Regions from separate parts of the Homo sapiens genome. Here region 2 is linked to region 1. Evidence: fine-mapped expression QTL. A gene starts in region 1. The other region holds a variant in brackets. All regions are shown on one strand. Distances are from middle to middle.

Region 1 (10,946 bases):
ATGGTTCCCAAGTTTACAAGGACCCAGTTCCAGTTCTCTCTGCTTTATGAGAACCTCCTAATTCCCAACCAAGAAGAACCTCAAGTTCTACTCCACAATTAAGCATCATTTGCTTTTTTACTTTTTTTTTTTTAATGATATTTACTCTCATTCTCTTGGGATTGGCCCTAGTGTTCTTTCTCCAGCGGAAGCATAGACAGATTCCCTGCCACATAAAGAGTCCTAGACAGACACTATCCAATAGCCCTGAAGCAGATGGCTCCGTCCTCCCAGAGTCCAATCTTCTAGTGGCTGGAGAAGGTCATGCTTACTCAGAGAGACTACTATCCCACAGTTTTCCTGCATGACATATTCTCCATAAAAGTCTGTCTGAGAGGGGTCCAGGCTCCGCCACTCCTCCTGAGAGAAGCACAGTGACACATCCTTGATGGTTACCAGGCCCTGAAACAAAATGTAGCATCTTCTGTCAGCAGCTGTTTTTTAAGGAAAATGTGATTCAGTATGAAAGGCTAAGTTAGTAGAGGAGAGAGGGTGAGAAATGATCTGAGAAAAGAGCTGCCCAGAAGTCCCTGGGTAGGGCACATAGTTTTGGTAACAGGGAAATGAGGAGAGGAGTAAAGGTAGATGGTCAAGGAGTGAGTGAGTGTAATGTTACTGGAGGAATTTCCCAAGTGGGGCCATGAGAAGCTGGAGGCACCATAAACTCATCACCACCTCTGTTTAGCTACAGGTGTCTACTCAGTCACTTCTCCCTGGCCTTACTCTTTTTATGAAGAAATTATGTACCATTTCCTCCTTCTTCCACTGGACCCTGCCTTTTCTATCAGCACAAAATGCTACAGATAAAACATTCTTTCTTGCCTCCCTTGCCACAGCATTTTTTTTTTTTTGAGACGGAGTCTCACTGTCGCCCAGGCTGGAGTGCAGTAGCACAATCTTGGCTCACCGCAACCTCCACCTCCCAGGTTCAAGCGATTCTCCTGTCTCAGCCTCCCAAGTAGCTGGAATTACAGGCACCCACCACTACACCCAGCTATTTTTTTTGTGGTGTTAGTAGAGACGGGGTTTCACCATGTTGGCCAGGCTGGTCTCGAACTCCTGACCTTGTGATTTGCCCACCTCGGCCTCCCAAAGTGCTGGGATTACAGGCATGAGCCACCGTGCCTGGCCATATCTTTATATTTTTAGGCAGCACAGTATGGTGGTTAGGAGCTCAGAATCTGGAGCCAAGTGACTCAGCTTTGCCACTTTCTTGCAGCATGACCTACACAAGTGCCTTAATCTCTCCCTGCCCCATTTCCTCATCTGTAAAATTGGATAACTGAGTTGTTCTCAGAATTAAATGAGTTAATATACATAAAGCACCCAGAAAATGGCATACATGATAAACACTCTGGGGGTGTACTCTATTAGTACTAACACTATTAGTATTAGCTTTCCACAGCTCTCCTATTGCCTTCTGAATCTAAACCTAATTTCCTTTCTAGCTCTGCCCCTCTTTATAACCTTCTTCCTCTTCTTTTCCATAAATGCTCCCTCATCTACCCAATCCTTCCACTTTAGGTTCTTCTAAGCTTTCTTCAGGTCCTCTTTTCCTAATCTTTCCAGATTTATTTCTTAAAGGAAGGTAATTAATTATTCTTAAAATCCTCCTGTGGATAACAAACACAGCCATCCATTAAAAACCCTAACCTTGGCCAGGCACGGTGGCTCATACCTGTGACCCCAGCACTTTGGGAGGCTGAGGTGGGCAGATCACCTGACGTCAGCAGTTCAAGACCAGCCTGGCCAACGTGGCAAAACCTTGTCTCTACTAAAAACACAAAAATTAGCTAGGTGTGGTGGCGTGTGCCAGTAGTCCCAGCTACTTGGGAGGCTGAAGCACAAGAATCGCTTGAACCCAGAAGGTGGAGGTTGCAGGGAGCCAAGATCATACCACTGCACTCCAACCAGGGCAACACAGTGAGATTCTGTCTCAAAAACAAAAAACAAAACAAAACTCAAAAAAACCCTAACCTCAAGGAATTCCCTTTCTTGTAGGTCCATTTAATTTTCCAAGGGTCTTATGACCCCTTGGAAAGGGATAGAATCTATTCAGTTATAAGATGAACATACCATTGATGATCATGTGAGCCAACTCATCAATGGGCTGATGCGAAAGCAATACAAAGGCAGCAGTGATGGGACCACAGGAGACGCCAAGGGAAGCAGAGCTCACCTGTGATCCAGCCGCAAGAAGTGCAGCTGCCATCTCCCAGTCTCCAGTGTTCCCCTCCTGGGGAATTGCAGGAACCCAGGGAGCAGACTGAGCTGATAAGGAGAGAGAAGAAACATTAGAGAATAACGATCTACCCTTTCTCAATGGGGCCTGGGCCCCATTTTAGAGAGGCTTAAGGGTCACAACTTCTGTATCTATGCCCATTGGTAAAACTCAAATGCATAAATGTAGATGAGAAGGCCATCACTCAAAATGTTCTGAAAGGGTATCAGATGGCTTTTAGTTAGACTAGCTATAGTTTGAATTTACAGTACTTGAATGTAATTTTCATCTAGTAAATTACATCTTACTGAGTGGGTTATCCAACAGTAATCAGGTTGCTGTCACTTCCTTCATCTCCCTCATTCAGTATCACTAATTATGCATTTGCATGTGGAGGGAGTAATTATGAAGAAACAAGAGAAGCCCAGTTGCATGGTTTGCTGAATTCAGGAGCCTATTCTGTACCTGTGACCAGGGCTGAGAAAGAATGGGCTGGTCCTGGTACAGGTTATGCTATTTAGTCCATGGCAATTTGGAGATTTTTAACCCTACTTTTGGAATAAATATTAGGAGACTATGCACTGTGCTTCCCACACACTCTGTGAGTTCTCACCCTTCTCCTGAAGGGACTGTGGCTCCTCTTCAAGGTCACAGCACAGGTGCTCCAGAGGTCCTGGTACTGTTCTCCATGGCCGCTCTTCCTGGCTTCCCCTTTCCACCTGGGGCTCTGCTCCATCCAGCTGTACATTCATTGATTCCCATCCTGTCCCCAGCGCTGCTGTCTGTTCTGAAAGCATTTCTGCTGCAGACCCAAATTGTGACCTGGAACAAATTCATATCAGCAATGCCCATGAAAATGGGAAAGGAGTGATATTTCTAAGGGAGTTATGAAGAACAGGCCCAGGGATAATAGACAAAACTAGATAGGAGGAGCTTGCTGGAAGATGAACTTTAAAAGCTTGATGTGTTCCGATCAACGGAGCCTGCACCAAGCTTCTTGGAGGAACTAAGAAATTGGCAGGTGCTACGTAGCAAAGCCACTAACTGGTATTTTGTGGACCTCATTATAGAAACAGAATATACCTGAAGGTTAGAAGAAGTTCATTTAAAAAAAAAGAACTGTCCTGGAAATTCAAAGGCTATCCATTTAATTTCAAGCACATGAAGTACAGGAAAGTAAGCAATTTGGAAACATACAGGAAGAAATACATATAGACCTGCACTCAACAAGATGGATGTAATCACACAGAAGATTTTCTGCCACAAATCACAGTCTCATCAGTTTAGAATGAAATGATTACTATAGGTAAAAGTCCCAACCAAGGGGCGTATTTGTATCATGAGGCTGGGCCAAAAGGTACCTCACTTGGGACAAGCCTCAATAAAAAGGCACTTGGTCTACCATCCAATGAAAACTGGTAGTAAATATGGTAGAAAAACTGATAACTTGGAAAGCAGGTGTTAAGACTCCAAAGTAATCCTAAGAGGTAAGAGAAATTGTTGGTCTGTGAGGAGCTGAAGTTTAATCAGGAAAAGTAAAAAGGAACAGAAAGAGTTTGAACCAGAGCTGGAAAAGGGGGGAAGAACTGCTGCTAACATGACCCAGAAGAACAAACCTGTTTATTTGTCAGGCACCAGTCAGATCTCATTAGAAAAATATATTCAGTTTGAAAGAAGCGTATGGTGAAGCCAGTGTGTGTTCATCAGAAAACATCAAAGTCAAGAAAGGGATTGGAAATACAGCCACTGGGAAAGTTAAAAATGTCGGATGTAGTTTTCTCTGTCTGGAGAAGAAGGCTGATGAATGATGCTACTAATGAATAAAAACAGAGGTCCCTTCTATCTCTATATAGGTCAAACAGAAAAAAATGGGTCTTGATTGCAAGAGAAGAGATTTAGGTTATTTTTTTTTAATTCTTAATAATCCTGCAGTGTACAATACCAGATAGTGGGCTCTTCTTTTTCTTTAGACAACTTAAGAGCAGGATGGGTCACACTTCTGTTGTGATAGGGCTTTATGGCAGAGAAATAATCTGAGACTCAGAATCTCTTTCTGTTTGGCAACATATTTTGGGTATTCTTATTCAATATCCAAACAGTCAGAGTCAGTGAAAGGCTTCCAAGAGCAGTCAGAAACTTGGTAACTATCCTGGCTTACTTACATCCTTTCAATAACACTTGCAAGAACCTTGAAGGCCAGGGTAGGTAATCACAGATGTCAAGTCGTCTATTTTCTTGCCTATTTGTCTTTGACAAAAGAGGTAGGTGGGAACCCTAAGCCCAATGCACAGGAAAAACAAATTCCCTTTTTATCTCAGAAGTCCAAAGATGGCTCAGGGCCTCATGGGAGCACCCTGGACTGATTCCCAGCCTAGGAGGTTTCCTTTTCAGAGACTTTTCATGAGAAAGGAAAATTCTTGCTAAAGCAATAAAGGGAAACTTCCATTTTAGCTCTCTTCTCTGAATTCCAGCTCTGTATCCACTTTTAACACACAGGGCACTAATTCTCCCTCTTCGTCCCATCTTTCTGGTTCTCTAGCTCCTGTGCAAATCCTCCCTGAAGGCTTTACCTCTAGCTACATATCTGGACACTTGTCTCAAACCCTTTCTCCATCTCCCCCAGGTAGCAGAGTCTCTTAATGGGAAGCCTCTTTGTGCAGAGCCCATTGGGCCAGCTGTAAGTTTTTCTATACCACTGACAGAAATCCGTGGAAGTGCTAGCAAAAATCTCAGCAAAGGATGGGATGGGTACCTGTCCTCAGCTTGCATTTCCTAAGATATTCACGCAGAGCCAGCACCTGGGCGGTTAAGGTGGTAGCCCTAACCTCGTTTCTCCTGGTTCCAGGATGATCCCATGCCCACTGCAGTGTGGGTTCTAGGGCTTTCATTTCCCCCTTTTCTTCACACATATGGGTAGCAAGGGACCTGCAAAAGGAAGTTTCTGCAGCCAGTGCTGATGAACAGAAAAGGGGCCATGTTATAAAAATGAGTAGCCCAAGGGCACACGGACGAGTTGGCTCCGTCCATCAGAGAACCCTGGCCCCTGCCACGGGTAGGGCATGGGCGGGACGGGAGCCTGCTCAGGGGTAAGGTTGCTTCTTCCCTTCTTCTTGTCACAGTGCCCCTGGAAAGGGTCAGATTTCAGAGAATCCGAGCAAGGCAGAACTGGAGCAGGGGAAGTGAGGTCAGAAAACAGGTTTCCCATGAGCTGGGGCATGAGCAAGTGAAGAGAAAGGGAGCCACGGGGTAACCTGTGCGCGAGTGACAGCGGCGGGAGCCCGCAGGGCCTGACAGTTGCGATGGGCACGGGGAGACAGGGCGAGAGGCGGGCACAGAATGTCAGCGGGGCAGACCCCCGGGAAAGGCAGCAACCCGGAAGACGCGCCGATCCTCCTCCCAGCCCCTATGGGTGACCGAGCCCCCACCAGCCGCCCCGGGAAGCCAGGCGTCCCTCCCTCCAGCCGCAGCTCCCTCCGGCCCGGCTCCACTCACCCCCGGTAGGCTTGGCCCGCGGCCCGGTGCCTCCCTCCCGGGCGCCGCCTGCCCCTCCCCTCCGCCCTCCGCTTGCGTCTGGGAGCCGGCGGCCGGCGGAGCCAGCGACAGGCGGAGACGGCGGCCCGGCAGGCGCGGGCGGGGCGGGGCGGGCACAGGAAATCCCCGCCCGCTTCCGGGGCTCTGCGGCGGCGGAGGTGCGGGGAGTGGGAGGGAGAGGAGTGGGAGGGAGAGGAGTGGGAGGGAGGGAGGGAGGGAGGGACGGGAGGGGGCGGGGCTGCGGCTCAGGCGCCCCCAAACGCGAACCCGGGACCTCCGCGCCCGCCGCTGTGGGGAGGGTGCGGCCCGAGACGCTTGGAGGGCGGCGGGCGCCGGAATCGCAGCCTGCTGTGGCCACTTGCCCGCACTCTTGCCTGACTGACCATTTTCCGCTCTGGCTACTGGGCCTCCCACGGAGTTCTGTCCTCAGGGTTCGTCAATTACCTGGAATTGCGTAACCGCCCGTTACAGGCCAGACCGAGGCCGAGAGCGATTTCTCCAGACAACAGTCTGGAATTCCTCAAGGAGCGTACCCTCTAGTTTTCACGATAGGATAAAGGGCTTGAGAGAGCACTGAGGAGGAGTCACTTATTCTGCCTGAGGGGAAGTCAGGTTGCTATCTGAAGTTGGCCTTGCGGCTGCTGTCCCATTTGCGGGAGCCGTAGCCGCAGGTGACACCTGAGCTCTCGAAATGTGGCTGGTCTGAATAGAGATGTGTTCCAAGATTTAGAAGATTTAATTTAAAAAGTGATATTTTGGGTATATTGGGTTAAATATATTAAAATTAATTTCACCTGGTTTTAACTTTTTAAATGTGGCTATAAATATGGCTTGCATTATATTTCTATTGGATAGTGCTACCTTGCAGCATTAAGATGGATTTGACTAGAAAAGATGAGAAGGGCCTACAAACAGTGAGTAAACCCATTGCTGTTAGAATCTGTTTATAACCTACAAGTCACATTCACATTCCTTATTTCATCATTACAACAATTTTCAAAAATTTTATTTAGTAGACTTAAAAAATAATTGACTCACTTAAGGTCATATGTGACAATCATTCGTTTAATGCATATTTATTTTCTACGTGTGCCAGACACTGTAACTAAATGCTGGGAGTTAAAGGATTCACAGTCTGGGGAAGCACATGTCAACAAATATTTGCAATAAAAACGTAGATTCTAAAACAGAGGAACGTACGCTGCACTTGAAGCAAAGAGAAGTGACCACGTATGGGACGGAGGTCAGAGAAGGCCCCCCACTCTGACAGAAATCGTGAGGCAGAGAAGAGTCAGGAGGGCTGTCTAATGAAAGAGGAAAATGCAGTAGACACGCAGTTGGGAAGAGTATAGAGCATATTCTAGGAGCAGATCATGGGATATGTCGGGGTAGTAGTAGAGCCAGAATTTTTATCCCGGGTCCTGGAACTAAGTCCAGGGGTTCTTTTCACTTATGCTACCACTGGTGGTAAATATAAGGTGCGTTAATTGGAGTAGGCTAGCAAAACCAGTATCTCGGGGCTTAACTCCATAAAGGCTTATGTTCATACAAGTCACAGTGTGGTAACAAGTTGGTTGGGGCCAGAGGGTGGGGTCTGTACTTCTTGAATTCATTGAAGGACCAGGCTTCTTGCATTTGGTGGTTCTCCCATGCCGAGGCCTTGGTAATGTAGTCAAATCTGTGGCCCTCAGATAAGGGAGGCTGGCCGTGGTTAACTTGTCAGAGATATTAGGGGCCAGTCCTGGAAGTGGTGTGTATCATTTTCACCCCATTCCCTTAGCCAGAACTCATGCGCATGGTCACATGGCCCTACCCAGAAGGGTGGCTGGGAAGTAAAGAATGTGTGCCTCATGGAAAAGGAAATGGGCGCTGCTGGACACAGCATTGCCTCGTCACACAGAGTTAAATTGAACATAACCAAGTACGTAAACCTGACTTTACCTGAAAAGAATGTTTGGAAAGAACTGATAGATATTATAATAGCCCAAACTCTCCTCGACTGTTTTGGGAAACAAATCAGTGTGAGATTGTTTCCAAAAAATAAAAAAAGCCAGGTGCAGTGTCTCATGCCTGTAATCCCAGCACTTTGGGAGGTAGAGGCGGGCGGATCACAAGGTCAGGAGTTCAAAACCAGCCTGGCCAACATAGTGAAACCCTGTCTCTAGCTGGGCATGGTGGTGCGTGCCTGTAGTCCCAGCTACTTGGGAGGCTGAGGCAGGAGAATCGCTTGAAACCAGGAGGTGGAAGTTGCAGTGAGCAGAGATCGTGCCACTAATACTCCAGCTTGGGCAACAGAATGAGACTTCGTCTCAAAAAAAAAAAAAAAAAAAGAGGCTGAATGGTATCATCTTCTTTATACCAGAACCTTTTCTTTTTAAAAATAACTTTTATAATTTTAAATTTGTGTAGTTACATAATAGGTGAATATCTTTATGGGGTACATGAGATATTTTGATGCAGGTATGCAATGCATGATAATCACATCATGGGAATCAGGTATCCATCCCCTCAAGCATTTATCCTTTGTGTTACAAACAATCCAATTATACCCTTTTAGTTACTTTAAAATGTACAGTTATTATTGACTATAATAACTATTAAATACTAGGTCTATTAAATACTAGGTTGTTCTATTAAATACTAGGTCTTATTCATGCATTCAAACTATTTTTTGTACCCATTAACCATCCTCACTGTCCCCATTCCCCCATTACCCTTCCCAGCCTCTGGTAACCATCCTTCTACTCTCTATCTCCATGGGTTGAATTGTTTTGATTTTTAGATCCTCCAAATAAGTGAGAACATGTGATGTTTGTCTTTCTGTGTCTGGCTTATTTCGCTTAACATAATGACTTCCAGTTCCATCCATGTTGTTGCAAATGACTAAATCTCATTCTTTTTTTATGGCTGAATAGTGCTCCATTGTGTGTAAGTACCATTTGTTCTTTATTCATTCATCTGTTAATGGACACTTAGATTGCTTCCAAATCTTGGCTATGGTGAACAGAGCTGCAACAAACATGGGAATGCAGATATCTCTTTGATAAACTGATTTCCTTTCTTTTAGGTATATACCCAGCAGTGGGATTGCTGGATCATATAGGAGCTCAATTTTTAGTTTTTTTGAGGAACCTCCAAACTGTTCTCCCTAGTAGTTATACTAATTTACATTCCCACTAGCAGTGTATGAGGGTTCCCTTTTCTCTACATCCTTACCAGCATTTGTTATTGCCTGCTTTTTGAATATAAGCCATTTTAACAGGAGTGAGATGATATCTCATTGGAGTTTTGATTTGCATTTCTCTGATGATCAGTAATATTGAGCACCTTCTCATATGTCTGTTTGCCATTTGTATGTATTCTTTTGAGAAATGTCTATTCAAATCTTTTGCCTATTTTTTAACCAGAGTATTAGATTTTTTCCTGTAGAGTTGCTTGAGATCCTTATATATTCTGGTTATTAATCTCTTATCAGATAAGTAGTTTGCAAATATTTTCTCCCATTCTGTGTGTTGTCTCTTCAATTTGTTGATTGCTTCTTTTGCTGTGCAGAAGCTTTTTAACTTGATGTGACCCCGTTTGTCCATTTTTGCTTTGGTCGTCCGTACTTGTACAGAACCTTGTCTTAAACATCACAAGGAATAAATTCAAAATGTCTTTATATTATGCTTTGGTGTGCCATCTCTTTAGTTATCAGTTAACAAACCCTGCAAGGTGTAGATCTGCATGGGTTCAGGGACATTAAGTGAGCCAAGAGGCACAATCAGGAATTGAGCCCTGGTCTGACTTCTCACTGGGTGCACCTTTAACCAGAGTGGTACTTTACCTTTTACAATGGACAAGTACAAACTCCTATGCAATGTTACAGCAGGGATTAATTAACTATGCATTGAGTAGCAGGCAGATGATTCCATCTTTTTCAGACTTTCTGATGGAGGAGTTTCAAGATCAGCTTTGAAGGTGAAATGTAGGAAGGGCATCCCATATAGAATCAGAAGGCAGAAATGGACATGCTGTGGCATGTTGTGGAATGAAGAACACACATATGTGGGGGTGTCAGTCTAGAGTAGAGAAGAAACAGGGAAATTGATAGAATAGTGGATGAAGGTGGTGGATGAAGAATTTTTTATTTGCTATATCAGGTGATAGGGAGTCATTATATTTGTGTTTAAAAGGAAGTGATACACCTGATGGTGCCAATTATATCATTGTAAGGAGACTTGGTGGTCCTGGGCTGCTCTGTTGATGGAATTCTGGTAACTGGGATGAGTTGGGCACACAGGTGGATTCTAATGTGTGGAATACAGAGTTCCTTGGGACATAGCAGCATTCTTCCTGCTGCTGTTGGTCATAAGTAGATACAGGGTATGAACTGTGAGAGTGAGTGGCTGCAGTGGTGAACACAATCATTTAAGGTAAAATAAAGCCAAGGAACTGAGAGACTAGAGTGCTAGCAGGGATAGGGTTCAAAATATTTAACTACTAGTGCTAGCATGGCATGGACCCATCAAAATAGATGTAGCCCATAACGCTGGTGCAGGGTCCTGCAGGCACCTTGTTGTGTTAGATGATTACTTTTTGTTTCTGAATCGTGAAGAGATCTGTTGAATCCTGATGAGGGGCTAGAGCATTGAGGCATGACATTGAAGAGGATTGACAGTGGCTATGAAAATATTTCAGTATTTTAGCAAGGAATACAATTATACTTGCACATATTCATATGCATGAGATGCATTGTCCTCATGGATGTTGAAGTCACTAGGAATAATGAAGGCATTATGGAGAGAGGGATAGTAAGCCAGTTGATGGAGTCTTAAATGAAAGGTGAGTGACCAGGAGTGTGGTAGGTAATAATAACAAGGAGGAGTGTGTGTGGAATAGTTTGATGACATGTGCTTCAATGCAGCTGGACATTATTTAGAGAGGAAGGATGAAAATGGTACTTGAAGCAGCAAGGAGAAAAGAGAGTTCACTATACTGAACAGAGACCACTTGCCCCAACACCGAACCTGAAGTAGAGCCTGGGTATCTGAAAAAAGCTGTCCCATAGAATGAGAGAACCACAGCGAGATGAGAAGGGCATGCGGAGAAGGCTTTGCCTTGGCCCTCAGAGGAGCAGATGCTCAGTATGACAGATGTGATTCTAGAGTAAGAG
Region 2 (10,946 bases), 73 kb before region 1:
CCTCATTTATTTCTCTCTAATCTGTATCCCTTTTCTTCCTCCCTCTGCCCACCTTCTCTCTTTGTCACTCATTTCTTTCTTTTCTTTTTATTCCTTTTTTTCTTTTGGCATTATTTTACAGGCTAGACCTTCTGTATAATGTTGAATAAGAGTGGTGATAACAGATATTTTTGCCTTTTCTCAGTCTTAGGATAAAAAGATTTGGTCCATCATTATTAAATACACTATTTTAAGGTACTCTTAGAATATCTACTACTGCAGATTTTTTAAGGTATTCTTTTTCAGTTCAGAAAGGTTTCCTTCTATACATAGTTTCCAAGAGGTTTGGTAATAAATGGGTGTGGAATTTTTCTGCCTACTTTTGTATTTAACTTTTTTTTTTTTTTTGAGTCAAAGTCTCGCTCTGTTGCTCAGGCTGGAGTGCAGTGGCGCGATCTCGGCTCACTGCAAGCTCCGCCTCCCGGGTTCAGGCCATTCTCCTGTCTCCTGCCTCAGCCTCCCGAGTAGCTGGGACTACTGGCGCCTGCCACCACGCCCGGCTAATTTTTTGTATTTTTAATAGAGACAGGGTTTCACCATGTTAGCCAGGATGGTCTTAATCTCCTGACCTCCTGATCCGCCTGCCTTGGCCTCCCAAAGTGCTGGGATTATAGGCGTGAGCCACCACGACCAGCCGTATTAAACTTTTTTAAATGATTTCATTTTATCTTCACTATTGGCTTATCATTTATACATCTTTACAGTTTTTAAGTGGCTGCCCTAGAATTTTTTTTATTATTATTATACTTTAAGTTCTAGGGTACATGAGCAGAACGTGCAGTTTTGTTACATGGGTATACATGTTCTGTTTATGTGATGGATTATGGTTATTGATTTGCATATGTTGAACCAGCCTTGCATCCCAGGAATGAAGGTGACTTGACCGTGGTGGATAAGCTTTATGATGTGCTGCTGGATTTGGTTTGCCAGTATTTTATTGAGGATTTTTGCATTGATGTTCATCAGGGATATTGGCCTGAAATTTTCTTTTTTTGTTGTGTCTCTGCCAGGTTTTAGTATCAGAATGATGGTGGCCTCATAAAATGAGTTAGGGAGGATTCCCTCTTTTTCTATTGTTTGGAATAGTTTCAGAAGGAATGGTACCAGCTCCTCTTTGTACCTCTGGTAGAATTCGGCTATGAATCCATCTGGTTCTGGACTTTTTTTGGTTGGTAGGCTATTAATTAGTGCCTCAATTTCAGAACTTTTTATTGGTCTATTCAGGGATTCGACTTCTTCCTGGTTTAGACTTGGGAGGGTGTATGTGTCCAGGAATTTATCCATTTCTCCTAGATTTTCTAGTTTATTTGCATAGATGTGTTTACAGTATTCTCTGATGGTAGTTTGTATTTCTGTGGGATCGGTGGTGATATCCCCCATATCATTTTTTATTGCGTCTGTTTGATTCTTCTCTCTTTTCTTCTTTATTAGTCTGGCTAGCAGTCTATCTATTTTGTGGATCTTTTCAAAACACCAGCTCCTGGATGCATTGATTTTTTGAAGGGTTTTTTGTGTCTCTATTTCCTTCAGTTCTGCTCTGATCTTAGTTATTTCTTGTCTTCTGCTAGCTTTTGAATTTGTTTGCTCTTGCTTCTCTAGTTCTTTTAATTGTGATGTTAGACTGTCAATTTTAGATCTTTCTGGCATTTAGTGTTATAAATTTCCCTCTACACACTGCTTTAAATATGTCCCAGAGATTCTGGCATGTTGTGTCTTTGTTCTCATTGGTTTCAATAAACATCTTTATATCTGCCTTCATTTCGTTATTTACCCAGTAGTCATTCAGGAGCAAGTTGTTCAGTTTCCATGTAGTTTTGTGGTTTTGAGTGGGTTTCTTAATCCTGAGTTCTAATTTGATTGCACTGTGGTCTGAGAGGCTGTTTGTTATGATTTCCGTTCTTTTGCATTTGCTGAGGAGTGTTTTACTTCCAATTGTGTGGTCAATTTTAGAATAAGTGTGATGAGGTGCTGAGAAGAGTGTACATTCTCTTGATTTGCAGTGGAGAGTTTTGTAGATGTCCTTTAGGTCTGCTTGGTCCAGAGCTGAGTTGAAGTCCTGAATATCCTTGTTAATTTTCTGTCTCATTGATATGTCTAATATTGACAGTAGGGTATTAAAATCTCCCACTACTATTGTGTGGGAGTCTAAGTCTCTTTGTAGGTCTCTAAGAATTTGCTTTATGAATCTGGGTGCTCCTGTATTGGGTGCATATATATTTAGGATAGTTAGCTCTTCTTGTTGAATTGATCCCTTTACCATTATGTAATGCCGTTCTTTGTCTCTTTTGATCTTTGTTGATTTAAAGTCTGTTTTATCAGAGATTAGGATTGTGACTCCTGCTTTTTTTCTTTTTTCTTTTTTTTTGCTTTCCATTTGCTTGGTAAATATTCCTCCATCCCTTTATCCCTTTATTTTGAGTCTATGTGTGTCTTTGCACATGAGATGAGTCTCCTGAATACAGCACACTGATGGGTCTTGACTCTTTATCCAATTTGCCAGTCTGTGTCTTTTAATTGAGGCATTTTGCCCATTTACATTTAAGGTTAATATTGTTATGTGTGAATTTGATCCTGTCACTATGATGCTAGCTGGTTGTTTTGCCCCTTATCTGATGCAGTTTCTTCATAGTGTTGATGTTCTTTACAATTTGGCATGTTTTTGCAGTGGCTGGTACCAGTTGTTCCTTTCCATGTTTAGTGCTTCCTTCAGGAGCTCTTGAAAGGCAGGCCTGGTGGTGATAAAATCTCTCAGCATTTGCTTGTCTGTAAAGTATCTTATTTCTCCTTTGCTTATGAAGCTTAGTTTGGCTGGATATGAAATTCTGAGTTGAAAATTCTTTTCCTTAAAAATGTTGAATATTGGTTGGGCACAGTGGCTCACACCTGTAATCCCAGCACTTTGGGAGGCCGAGGTGTGCAGATCAGGAGGTCAGGAGATTGATACCATCCTGGCTAACGTGGTGAAACCCCATCTCTACTAAAAAAAATACAAAAAAAATTAGCCAGACATGGTGGTGGGTGCCTGTAGTCCCATGTACTCGGGAGGCTGAGGCAGGAGAATGGCATGAACCCAGGAGACGGAGCTTGCAGTGAGCAGAGATTGTGCCACCGCACTCCAGCCTGGGTGATAGAGCGAGACACCATCTCAAAAAAAAAAAAAAAAAAAAAAAGAATGTTCAATATTTCCCCCCACTCTCTTCTGGCTTGTAGGGTTTCTGCAAAGAGATCCACTGTTAGCCTGATGGGCTTCCCTTTGTGGGTAAACTGACCTTTCTCTCTGGCTGTTTTTTCCTTCATTTCAACCTTGGTGAATCTGATGATTATGTGTCTTGGAGTTGCTCTTCTCGAGGAGTATCTTTGTGGTATTCTCTGTATTTCCTGAATTTGAATGTTGGCCTGTCTTGCTCGGTTGGGGAAGTTCTCCTGGATAATATCCTGAAGAGTGTTTTCTAACTTGGTTCCATTTTCCCTGTCACTTTCAGGTACTTCAATCAAACATAGATTTGGTCTTTTCACATAGTCCCATATTTCTTGGAGGCTTTGTTCATTCCTTTTTATTCTTTTTTCTCTAATCTTGTCTTCTCGCTTTATTTCATTAAGTTGATCTTCAATCCCTGATATCCTTTCTTCCATTTGATCGATTCCGCTATTGATACTTGTGTATGCTTCACGAAGTTCTCGTGCTGTGTTTTTCAGCTCCATCAGGTCATTTATGTTCTTCTCTAAACTGATTATTCTAGTTAGCAGTTCATCTAAGCTTTTTTCAAGGTTCTTAGCTTTCTTGAATTGGGTTAGAACATGCTCCTTTAGCTCGGAGGAGTTTGTTATTACCCACCTTCTGAAGCCTACTTCTGTGAATTCCTCAAACTCATTCTCCATCCAGATTTGTTCCCTTGCTGGCAAGGAGTTATGATCCTTTGGAGGAGAAGAGGTGTTGTGGTTTTTGGAATTTTCAGCCTTTTAGTGCTGGTTTCTCCCCATCTTTTTGGATTTATCTACCTTTGGTCTTTGATGTTGGTGACTTTCGGTTGGAGTCTTTGAGTGGACATGCTACTCCTTTCTGTTTGTTAGTTTTCCTTCTAACAGTCAGGCCTCTCCGCTGCAGGTCTGCTGGAATTTGCTGGAGGTCCACTCCCGACACTGTTTGCCTGGGTATCACCAGTGGAGGCTCAGTTGGAAATGCAGAAATCACCCATCTTCTGTGTTGATCTCACTGGGAGCTGCAGACTGGAGCTGTTCCTATTTGGCCATCTTGCCAGCAATCTGCCCTAGGAGTTTTCATAAACACATTTATTTAATCACAGTCTACCTTCAAATAGTATTATGCCACTTATGTGTAGCGTAATAACTTCCCTAATTTCTCTCACTCTTTATGCAATTGTTATATGTTTTACTTTTACTTGTGCTCCAAACCCAGAGTAGGTTGCCTTTGTTTTTGCTTTAGACAGTAAATTATCTTCTAAAGTTATTAACAAGAAAAAATATTTTATATTTACTTTGACTTTAACAATTCCAAAAGATCTTTGCATAGATTCAAGTTTCTGTCTAGTATTACATTCCTTCCTCTTAAAGAACTTTCCTTTTTTTTTTTTTCTTTTTTTTTTTTTTGAGATGTAGTCTCACTCTGTCACCCAGGCTGGAGTGCAGTGGCGCGATCTTGGCTCACTGCAAGCTCTGCATCCTGGGTTCATGCCATTCTCCTGCCTCAGCCTCCCAAGTAGCTGGGACTACAGACACCAACCACCATGCCCTGCTAATCTTTTTTGTATTTTTAGTAGAGACAGGG[T/C]TTCACCGTGTTAGCCAGGATGGTCTCAATCTCCTGACCTAGTGATCCACCCACCTTGGCCTCTCAAAATGCTGGGATTACAGGCGTGAGCCACCACACCCAGCCAAGAACTTTCTTTAACATTTCTTGTGGCATAGGTCTGCTTAATTTCTCTTTCATTTTGAAAAGTATTTTCACTTGGTATAGAATTCCATGTTACTTTTTTTTTCTTTTAACATTTTAAAGATGTCACTCTATGTCTTAGTTTCTTGTGATGACTATGCTGTAAATTTAATTTTTTTCCTTTAGGTAATGTGTCTTTTTTGTCTGACTGTCTTCTAGATTTTCTCTTTATCTTTGGTTTTCAAATGTTTAAATAGGACACATCGTGTGTGTGTAGTGTGTGTGTGTGTGTTGGTATTTATATCACTATGATTCTCTGAGCTTCTTGGATCTGTGGTTTGATGTCTTTCATTATTTTTTGAAAATTCTCAGCTATCATCTCTTCGTTTATTTTTCTACTCTGATCTCTTTCTCTTCTGGAATTCTAATTACATGTATGTTAGCCTGTTTAATATTGCCACATAACTCATATGTTCTGTCCTTTTTCTATTCTTTTTAATTTTTTTCCTTTAGTTTTGGTAATATCTGTTGACATATCTTCCAGTTTACTAATTGTTTTCCCTTTGGCTATGTTCAGTCTACTTATGAACCCATTGAAGGCCTTCTTCACCACTATTACCATACATTTAAATATTTTCTAACCTTTCTTTGGCCTGTTCTTAGTTTCTTTTTTTTATTTATTATTATTATACTTTAAGTTTTAGGGTACATGTGCACAATGTGCAGGTTAAGTTACAAATGTATATATGTGCCATGCTGGTGTGCTGCACCCACTAACTCATCATCTAGCATTAGGTATATCTCCCAGTGCTATCCCTCCCCCCTCCCCCCACCCCACAACAGTCCCCAGAGTGTGATGTTCCCCTTCCTGTGTCCATGTGTTCTCATTGTTCAATTCCCACCTATGAGTGAGAATATGCAGTGTTTGGTTTTTTGTTCTTGCGATAGTTTACTGAGAATGATGATTTCCAATTTCATCCATGTCCCTACAAAGGACAGGAACTCATCATTTTTTATGGCTGCATAGTATTCCATGGTGTATATGTGCCACATTTTCTTAATCCAGTCTATCATTGTTGGACATTTGGGTTGGTTCCAAGTCTTTGCTATTGTGAATAATGCTGCAATAAACATACGTGTGCATGTGTCTTTATAGCAGCATGATTTATATTCCTTTGGGTATATACCCAGTAATGGGATGGCTGGGTCAAATGGTATTTCTAGTTCTAGATCCCTGAGGAATCATCACACTGACTCCCACAAGGGTTGAACTAGTTTACAGTCCCACCAACAGTGTAAAAGTGTTCCTATTTCTCCACATCCTCTCCAGCACCTGTTGTTTCCTGACTTTTTAATGATTGCCATTCTAACTGGTGTGAGATGGTATCTCATTGTGGTTTTGATTTGCATTTCTCTGATGGCCAGTGATGGTGAGCATTTTTTCATGTGTTTTTTGGCTGCATAAATGTCTTCTTTTGAGAAGTGTCTGTTCATGTCCTTCACCCACTTTTTGATGGGGTTGTTTGTTTTTTTCTTGTAAATTTGTTTGAGTTCATTGTAGATTCTGGATATTAGCCCTTTGTCAGATGAGTAGGTTGTGAAAATTTTCTCCCATTTTGTAGGTTGCCTGTTCACGCTGATGGTAGTTTCTTTTGCTGTGCAGAAGCTCTTTAGTTTAATTAGATTCCATTTGTCAATTTTGGCTTTTGTTGCCATTGCTTTTGGTGTTTTAGACATGAAGTCCTTGCCCATGCCTATGTCCTGAATGGTAATGCCTAGGTTTTCTTCTAGGGTTTTTATGGTTTTAGGTCTAATGTTTAAGTCTTTAATCCATCTTGAATTGATTTTTGTATAAGGTGTAAGGAAGGGATCCAGTTTCAGCTTTCTACATATGGCTAGCAGTTTTCCCAGCACCGGCCTTTTCTTAGTTTCTAACTGCATACTGAAATTACCCACCTGTTGATGAATATTGCTTATTGTTTTCATTTCAGACTTTTCTACTTTGGATCTTTTCTACTAGGATCCAGCTGCTCTTTTGCAACTAGTAGATGACCTTGAGGATTCTAGCTTATTATCACTTCTGCCTACATCCCAGTCGTCAAAGCAAGCCACATGGTCATTCAATGGGCTGTATAGATCCCTAACATAGATAGGGATTATTATTCTGTTACAAGGAGAAAGAAAACAGTCTATTAAATTAACCTATGGAGTTGCCCATTTTAGAAACCTAGGAGTTATCTTTGATTCCTCCATTTTCCTCAGTCCCCACATTTAATCAGAAAGTGCTAGTGAATCTTTTGTCAAAGTACATATAGAATCTGTACATTTCTCTGTGCCATCCTAATCCAAGATACCATCATCTCTTCCCTGGGCTCCTAATTGGACCTTCTCATTTTTACTCTTGCCTTCCTCCTATCAATTTTCCCAACCAAAGCAAGAATTATCTTAAAATGTAAATCATTTCACATTGTTCATTCACTTAAAAAACAATATTCTGTTGCATTTGAAATGTTAACAAAAGAGCAATGAGATCTCTTGTGGAGGCAAAAGGAGAACTTTATTTTCTAAAAGCAACCTGCAGATTGAGGAGACAGCCTTCAGTGCAAAACAAAAGTGCACTCTAAGGAGGGGATTGGAGAGTTATATATCATAAAGATGAAGATTGCAGGCCAGAAGAGGAGTCAGGGAGTGAGGAACACAGTCTTGATTGGAAAACCTTTGATCTCCCAAATAACCAGTCTCTCTTAGTTGGCTGATTCCAGGTAATTGGCTGGCACCAGGTAACCTATTGGTGGTCAGTTGGGGAATTTCCAGCTGTAGTTGTTTTTGACATTGTTTTCAGGAACTGTTCTTTGACTTGATTGCAGAAAAACTGGTTTTACAATAGTTTTGACAGATACAGAGTGCATGATCACTCCCTCACTCTGCTATGGCCTCTTGGTTCTGCTTTTAGCTTTTGAGCCACAGGGAGTCTGCCTTGTCTGTCAATTGGGGGCATAATTTGATACATTTAAATTAAAATTTAAACTTCTAATAAGAGCAAGGCCATCCTCCCTCTGCCTCTCTTTCCAACCTCATCTCATTCTAGTTTCTTCTTTATTCACATTTCAGAAACTTGATATCTATAAGCTCTTCCCTATTTCATAGCTTTTGAATATGCTGTTCCGTCTCTCTAGAATGCTCTTTCTCTAACTTTTGCCAAGCCTTGCTCATTCTCTAACTTTTGCCAAGCCTTGCTCATTCTCATGCCTTAAGTCTTAGCATATGTGTCACTTTCTCAAATAGGCCTTCCCTGACCTTCCTCTCTAAAGCTGATCCCCTGCTGTTCTCTAACTAGCTCTTTGTTTAGTTCTATCATCATTCTAATTTGTCTGTTTACTTATCTTCCCAACTAGACTGTAAGGACCATGAAGGAAAGGGCCATTTCTGTGTTGTTTGCTGTTGTATCCCCACAGCTGGCCTTGACCTTGGTAATTTGTAAGTTTTTTTAAAAAGTGTTGAATGAGTGAGTAAATAGGTAGATGAGATAATGAGGGTATAATCCAGGGCAGCAGCCGTAGGCAAAGAAAAGAGAGAACATTGGAAACTTTTAAGACTCAGATTAAATGCTTAATCTTCTCTGAGGTCTCTCCTTATCTTTTCAGCCAGAAATTGAGTATAGTGTCTCACTTATGAACCTTTGATTTTGTTTATGCCTCATTTGTTGTGTTTAACATTCTCTACCTCTTGTAATGATTGTTTTAAATGACAGCTCTTTCCTGCCAGGATTTTACCCATCTTAAAGGAAAGACCATATTTTATTCATCTGTCTCCCATAATAGTCAACACCCTGCTTGGCACATAATAAGCTGATTATATGTTTTGAATGAAAAAGTGAGGGAAAGACTTGAACACTTTTGTGTTCTAGGGTGAGGAGAAAGGGTCTGCATAGATTGGGTTCTTGGATAACTTCCCTGTGACAGCCTCTCAGGGAGGGACCTAAGCTTCTTGAAATAAGTTTTCCAATCTTATTACAAAGGTTATTTTTCCATGATATGAGCTCACTATACTTCACTTTCTGAAGGAGACCAAAGAAAGATATAATGTATTGACCTTTTCTGGATTTGATAATCTCAATTTATAGTGCAGAGCATTGCCCGGCACATGCCAGTTAGGCCAATAAAAATGACTTTGAACTTCCAAACTTTTCTCCCTGGAGAAGCAGAGTAATAGTCTTGATCACACTCTAAGGAGGCACTTGGGTCCCAGCCAATCTCTGCCCAGTTGGTCCCCTCGTCCTTCCTCCTTCTCTGGTATCTGGGGGAACAGGCCTGAGGGGAGGGGAAGGTAGTGTTGAGCCGGGACCGTCAGGGTCTCATTAGCATTTGGTACTTAGATAATCCCAGCTGTTCCATGTGTGGAAATCTCCACGGGCAGCTTTACATCAGATCAATTAAGGCCAGCTTGAGTTTTGCTTTTACTCTAAATGATTCTCAAGAGTTTAGTTAGGAAGATACCTACAGGGACTGCTCAGTGACTATCCAAGGAGGATCACAGGAGCAACTGGGATTTATTAAAAGAGTGAGCAAAGGGCCCATGTCCAGGAGGTGTCCCTGCAGATCTTGTTCCAAGTATCATGAGTAAAATGGCAACTCCAGCACCAGCTCTCCCAGCTGTGTAACTTAAGTACTGTCCCTACAAAGTCCTCTCTATTCTCACCCTAAATCTTACCCTTGCAGTTATTTCTGGATTAGTCAGAAAGTCCCTGACTTTGGGACATATCTATTAACATACACTTCTCATATAATCTATCCCAATCACTGACTGGGATAAAAATTAAATCCCCTTCTGGAAAAAAAAGACATTAATCTCATTGCACCCGGCATCACAGAATGTTTCTAATAATAACAAATGGACAACAATTATTCTACAAGAGATAAACTGTTAAATTAAATATAGAACACCTACATAATGGCATTTTATACAGTCAATATATCTATGATGAGTTCTTTATACCACGGATACATACTTACCTATAATTTTAAGGAAAATTCAGGATGAAAATTCTACATATCATGTGAAAAAGTTATGCCAAATCACATTTAGGCAGTGGAAATATACCAAAATGATAACTATAGAAGTCATGAATATTTTTGAATTGTTATTCTTCTTTATAGTTTTTTTGTAGTTTCAATGTATTACTATCATAATCAGGAGAAAACACATTAAAATTGTAATGGGTCCACTCAACACAGATATTTCTAACATAACACCAAAGAAAAATGTCCAATCAATCTATTCATCTCCTAGGGCTGCCATAACAAACGACCACAAATTGAGTGGCCTAAAGGAGTGGGAATGTATTCTCTCACAGTTTTGGAGACTAGAAGTCCAAAATCAAGGTGTTGGCAGAATTGGTTCCTTCTGGAGATTCTGAGGGAGAATCTGTTCCATGCTTCTCTCCTGGTAACTGCCAGAAACCCCTGGCATCCTTTGCCTTATCATTACCTTAATCTCTGCCTCTGTCATCACATGACATTCTCCTTGTGCGGCTCTGTGTGTGTTCAAACTTCCCCCTTCTTCTAAGAATTAGTCATTGGATTAGGGACTGCCTTTATTTAGTTTGGCCTCATCTCAACTTGATTGTATCTACAAAACACTATTTTCAAATAAAGTCATATTTACAGAGAGGTTTGCTGGCAGAATAATTCCTAGATCTCACTCCAGTGTCCCCCTTGGTAGAACCCAAATGGAAGCCAGAGGACAAAGGAGCTCGCTGATGTAGAACATACAGATTAGCTACTATAGGGGTTCCCAGCCCCCAGGTCACAGACTGGTACTGGTCAGTGGCCTATTAGGAGCTGGGCCACACAGCAGAAGGTGAGTGGTGGGCAAGCAAGTAAAACTTCATCTGTATTTACAGCTGCTCCCCATTACTCACATTACCACCTGAGCTGTGACCCCTGTCAGATCAACAGTGGCATTTGATTCTCACAGGAGCATGAACCCTGTTGTGAACTGCACGTGTGAGGGATCTAGG

The links. PIP is the estimated chance that this variant, and not a neighbour inherited with it, causes the effect.
Region 2: its variant is fine-mapped to the expression of ZNF641 in whole blood (INTERVAL, PIP above 0.99).

What each region holds. Positions count from the first base shown.
Region 1 is chr12:48,345,034-48,355,979 of GRCh38, forward strand. ZNF641 (zinc finger protein 641) reads right to left here and starts at 5,886. Exons shown (of 6, transcript NM_001172681.2): 1 at 5,753-5,886; 2 at 2,874-3,082; 3 at 2,219-2,310; 4 at 312-441. The coding sequence starts at 3,057. It also overlaps the pseudogene OR5BK1P. RefSeq lists enhancers at 5,397-5,466, 5,905-6,641 and silencers at 5,607-6,036, 6,317-6,396.
Region 2 is chr12:48,271,544-48,282,489 of GRCh38, forward strand. LOC105369753 (a long non-coding RNA gene) reads right to left here. Exons shown (of 4, transcript XR_944923.3): 4 at 7,463-7,908. Among named protein-coding and RNA genes, the nearest start is that of H1-7, 52 kb to the right of the region's middle. The variant T/C (reference allele first, on the strand shown) is at 4,826.